2 separate regions of the Homo sapiens genome follow, and region 2 is linked to region 1. The links come from fine-mapping of genetic effects on gene expression. A gene starts in region 1. The other region holds a variant in brackets. All regions are shown on one strand. Distances are from middle to middle.

What was found. PIP is the estimated chance that this variant, and not a neighbour inherited with it, causes the effect.
Region 2: its variant is the best candidate, but not a certain one, in a credible set for the expression of MIR181A2HG in fibroblasts (GTEx, PIP 0.69).

What each region holds. Positions count from the first base shown.
Region 1 is chr9:124,657,139-124,660,055 of GRCh38, forward strand. MIR181A2HG (MIR181A2 host gene) reads left to right here and starts at 1,298. Exons shown (of 2, transcript NR_038975.1): 1 at 1,298-1,603. All of the region lies in intron 2 of NR6A1 (nuclear receptor subfamily 6 group A member 1), which reads right to left. RefSeq lists enhancers at 1,345-1,464, 2,286-2,335.
Region 2 is chr9:124,601,604-124,604,520 of GRCh38, forward strand. The region is part of intron 2 of NR6A1 (nuclear receptor subfamily 6 group A member 1); the gene reads right to left. Among named protein-coding and RNA genes, the nearest start is that of MIR181A2HG, 55 kb to the right of the region's middle. The variant G/A (reference allele first, on the strand shown) is at 1,324.

The DNA of each region.
Region 1 (2,917 bases):
CTCCTCTTCTTTCGAACATTCTTATATCTAATAGTGCATCAAAACAGCTTTTCTCGGGTTAAGACAAGAGAATAATTCTGGGGTAGTCCTCATATGGAAGGTGCTGCATAATATAGTCAACATCTAAAAAATTCCAAGTACAAACATCCAAACCCAAAATTTACAGCAAAAGAGACAGATGGAATTATTTCAACAACTGTGAGAAAGGCAAGAAATAAACAGAACTATTGGTATGTTTAAGTATCAATTTAGGACTCTATAAGCTAATTTCTAAAGAGACAAGAAAGTCCACGGAAAAAAATGATTGGTCCATGTAGAGTAGATTTCATATATCAGAGTCAAGGTCTCACAAAACAACTTTACTGTTTTGAAACTTTAAAGAAGTGTCAACTTGCATTAAATAAACAAAGCAACTGCCATGTACTAAACAAAAATGTCACAAATGACAGTCCTGTATAATGACCTGGTTTCCCAGTGGCTCAGAAAGATGGAAAATAAACCCCAAGGACCCTAGTTCAGACAGACTGAAGAGAGCAGACCGTGGCTGTCTTGCATGATTAAAGGCTATGTCACAGCTCAGTAGGGTCCATGCTTTCATAGCTTCCCCCCCCCAGCAACCCCTAATGTGACTAGGACTGGGACAAGAGTGACAGTCTCACAAAGGGGATAAAAAGACATAAAGCTTCTTCCTCATACATCCAAACACTCCAGAATCTAAAACTTCACTTCTCTGTTGTCCATCTATCCAATTTTCATTAAGAGCAATTTATATCATATAGAGGCTTCAAAGTCAAATATGCCACTTTTATTTTTACCTTATCAAACCTATAAAATCAAGACCAAGGGTTGGTCTGGATATGAAGCTTGGTTAGGATCACAATAAATTTTCAAATCAAATAATTGGTTTCAGTTAGAGCCAAGTTTATCAACAATAGGGTGATTTAGGATTCAGGAAAAATCGGCTGCCTATTTGTATTTCAGAAAGACTAGTATTTCTTCTGACACAAGTAGAGAGGTGTAAGCAACCTCTGGGTGGGTAATGCCACCAAACAAAAGCAACACCTTCAAAGTCTCTCAGTGACTAGAGGCAGCCAGACACTCAAACTGCCAGTCCTGAATTACGGCCTCTGAATGGTGAGGGCTTCACATTTCACCGATCAGGGCACAGCCCAATCAGAAGACAAACCCCTGCACTGCCAGGGACCAGCAAATCCGCTTTCTTCCAGTGTGCACATGACTAAATGTGCTTCTGTCCATCATCTGGGTCATATATAGTTCAATGCGAGCTGAGCAGACAGGGCTGCAAGGAAATCTGGCGCGGTTCAATACCTCGTCTAGCCTGGGTTCCAGTATCTAATTTTTTTTTTGTTTTAACTGACAAACTCATTTCTCTACTGGGACAGGATGCTGTGCTGGCTGGAAGTTCCATTTCTACAGCAAGAATCCTATCTGGAAACACAGAAGTTGTCCTCTAGCCACAGCAGCTCGAACTTTTTTGATTGTCGTTGCTGCTTTCTCCCATCACCCCCATCCCCTTTTGACAAAGATCCAACTGTAAAAAGTCTTACGTAACAGTTCAGGACTACTTCGGTTCTTTTACTGGGTAAGCACTTTCAATTTTTTTTTTTTAACTAAAAGCCATTTTAAAATTGAATCTGTTGAGGGGCTTGACTAAAATCTTTTAAGTAATTTGTGTAATGGAATACTGTCAGTGGATTTTTTCGTCTCATTTCTGCACGTGCTCCTTTGTTCTCAGAACAGAAGCTTTTTATACACATCCCATAACGCAGCTGGAGAGAGTTATGAAGTCAGTTATTATAAGGAACACAAAGGTTGCTTTCCATTCTTTGCCTTTAGATAATTAATTTTTTTGTTTTCTTAAAATGGAGTATTTAAAGAAGGAAGAAATTCACAAGAAATAAACTGTTGGAGAATTTAGAAAAGTTTGAAGTTTTTACCACCTTTTCTATCTCTAGTTTTGTGTGGCCAAACACTTGTGCCGCCTGGGGCGGTGGGGGTAGAGGCAAGCATAGACAGAGAGGAACTAAGCCAGACATGGACAAAGGCACGAGCCAAAACCAGACAGTCCTGGCCGTTCGATAGGCCAGCAGTGGGTGAGACAGGTCAGCCAGCTGCAGGGGCGGGAGCGGGGGGGCGGGTAGGGACATGGATGTGTGAGGTGCTCATGCGTGCGATCGTGACTAGATTCTGAAACTGCCAGCCATTTTCCCAGCTCCGCTTTGTGCAATCTAAAGGAATGCATCCCCTCTGAAGCAGTCTTGCCAGAGCCTAGTGAGGGAGAGAAGTATGGTAAATACCACAACATATGGAATCAGAAAATACCGGGAACTGGAGTGGGCAAGGGGGAATGCAGAGGGTGTGGAAATTTTTTAGTGATCTGGAATGTGTTGAGTGACAGGAAGTGCCCCAAGCTTCTCCCCCACCAACTCTTCTCAGTCGCGCCTGCTTTTGTCTAACTCTTGTAATCTACACACTACTGCTTACAAAGCTGTCTGAGTTTAAGACAAAAAGAAACCTAAAAGTCTCCTTACTTCATAGTACCTGTGATATGGAAGGAATGTAAAAGCATGACCCTTTAAGCCTATGGACATTTTTTCAGGTATACAGGAGAAAGATAAAATAATTTTCCACAGAAAAATGAGAATTATGAATTATATAGTTCAGGTTCCAAATCTAATTTTTAAAAGAATTCTGATTCTGCTACACTTTACAAATGCTTAGGTTGGTTCCTAATTTGAAGCAGACTTGTTTTATTTGGTTAATGCATTGCATTTGAACTTGTTTCTATTTTCTTTGCATAAATTTGGACTTTGGGAGAAAAATGCAAAGTAATAAGTAGAATGCACTTGGGGGAAAAAAGGAGGATTTTTCCCTTCATGGGTTGGAAAGTATTTTA
Region 2 (2,917 bases), 56 kb before region 1:
GAAAAAAGAAAAGAAAAGAAAAAAAAAGACTATATATAGACTATATATATAAAGCATATATAGAGTATGCTTACATAGGCTCAGCAAGGTGGCTCACACCTGTAATCCCAGTACTTTGGGAGGCAGAGGTGTGTGGATCGTTTGAGCTCAGGAGTTCAAGGCCAGCTTTGGAAACATAGGGAGACCCGTCTCTATAAAAAAAAAATTAGCCATTATGGTGGCACACGCCTGAAGCCCAAGCTATCCTAGCTGAGGTGGGAGGGTTGCTTGAGCCTGGGAGGTTGCAGTGAACTGTGATCACGCCACTGCACTCCAGCCTGGGTGACAGAGCAAGACCCTGTCTCAAAAAAAAGAACAGCCTTGTGTTAACAACCAAATGCAATATATGTACTTTTAGATCCTGATTTGAACCAAATAATTGTAAAAAGACATTTTTGGGACAATCCAGGAAATTTAAATATGTGTAAGACATTTAATTAGGTAAGTTTCCTACCTGCGAACTGAGGAACCTGGAAAAGGTGAGCTTTTCCTCCATTTAAAATTTCTCACAATTCCCCAGTCAAGATTTTATCCATGAATTTTTAAAGTATCCCAATCAAGAACAGATTATAACATGAATAAATAAGTCCTTTTTGAATGAAAACAAAGGAATCAGATACAGAGCATATAAATATAAACGCAGTCAACTATTTTGTCTCCTGAGAGGTCTAAACAAGTTGGGACTTATTCATCACATTTGGCACCCGTGACTGTTTACCTTCTTCTCAAGACCCAGATTGGCCCAGAGATTAATGCAAATAAATACTCTAGCCCTGAACACAGCAACAGCTCAAACTGCTGTTAAGCAACATGTGAAGCTGAAGTAAAAAAAGATCAAAGTTGTACAAAGCAAGTCTCAAACTTGGGGGCAGAGTAAAGTGACAGGCTTTCTCCTTTGGTGCTCCTATAAAGGTAGACCACTTGAAGGTTAGTTTTTCCAAGCCAACTCTGGTTTCAGCCCTCACTTCTCTGGTTGTTTCATTTGTTCATACATCCATCTACCTGACCTAGAGACAACGTCAGATGATATAGGAAAAGACTTCTATCTAAAAAGAACTCAGTTCTACGTGAGAATTCTGGGAAAAGGCAAGATAAAATGCCCCCATTAAGTGTGGCATGATCTCATTGAGTCCCATCAGTGGTTCCCAGGAACCTATGGTATAAAGGCCCACACTCCTAAGGCCCTCCCTCTATAACCCAGCTCTTCCTGACTTCTCCAGCTTCATTTCCCACCACTCCTCTTAAGTACCCATTACTCCAGCCATGCTGACCCACTTACTTATA[G/A]TGCAAATATTATACTAAGCTATTCCATTTGCCTGGAATAACTCTTTTCACTATTTCCTTATAGTTTCCACTCCCACTTACTAATCTTACTGGACTCAATTTAAAAATCACCTCCTCTGTAAAATATTTTAAGACTCCATTCTCCCAGACTTAAACTCAAAGTCAAATCGCACCCTTCTTCCCTTCTGCCTGGATCCCTAAAATATACTACGACATTACTCATCACGTAGTATTTTTATTTTACAATTCTATCCTTTCTTATTAATCTCATGTACTCCAAAGAGTCAAGCCCAGGGCTGTCTTCAGTTTAGTATTTAAAAGGCTTTCATAATACATTAAAGCAATTAGATGGCTCCTCGAGAGGTGTGTGTGTTGTGTGGGTGGGGTACAGTTCTTCTGTTGAATTTCTTAATAGTGCATTCATATTCTTCTTCATTTTCACATTTTCTAACTCTTTCATCTTACCTCACGACAGGTTTTTTCCCCTAGACAAACTCTACTTCAGAGTCTCCCATGTTTCAGGCCCTGTGTTAAATATACATTTTCTGATTTAGAAGCCTACCTGAGACTAAATCTTCCAACAATGAAGGGCTGGTACTGGTAGTCAAAGGTTCCTGATCAATATGTCATTTGCTGGGTTCCTGCATCAGTGTAGAACCACCTGTTGCTGACGATCTTTTGATTAACATATATAACATATGTATCCGTCACTGGATTCCGAAATATGAGACCAAGGACTGTGCCCCATATTTTTGCCAACCAGTGTATCTCCAGTGCTTGAATATTTGTTGACTGAAGAAAGGAAGGAAAGGAGCTGCTTCAGAAAGCAGCAACATAGGAAAGGGGGAAAAAAAACCTTCAGGAATACAAATAGACCACCTTAGGCCAGCCATTCCCGCAAAGCCAAAACCAGTTTTCCCAGTCCCAATTCCAACTCCAGCAAATCTTACCCATACACAGAGCTCTCCTCTAATTGAGGGATTGGCTGTAATAAATCTGACAAGATCAGTTGCAAATCAGCAAGTGGCAATCCTACCTGCACCAGTTCTATCCCTTTCCACTCTACTAAAAATTGAACTCTCTAAGGATAGGCATAGGTAAAAGAAAGGACAATGAGGGCTTACGCAGTCTTTCTTTAGGGTAGAACTTGGCTCCTGATGGCAAAGGAATCCATTTTTATCCAACAAGAAATAACGCACATAATCCCAATCTGAGTCAACTACACTCAGCAACTGAGCCTTATCCTAGGTCCTGGAGTCAGGAACTGCTCCCCTGAATCTCACATCCTGATATCCAACTGCCTCCTGGGCACCTCCACCTAGATGTATCCATCATAAGCACCTCAGACAAGTCCAAACTTGTCTTCCTTTAAAACTCTGTTCCTCTCTCTGGCCCCCCTGTTCAGTGAAAGGCATCAACCACCCAAGCCAAAAACCTGGCACTCTTTCCATGGCTCCTTCCTCCTCTTTGACTATACCCACATACAACCTGTCATAAATCCTGTCTTTTCTACCCCCTCAAAAGTAGCTGAATCAGCTACCCTGAAGAGGTATTTACTAAACAAAGATGGGATAATTTGAGCATCACTTAAAAA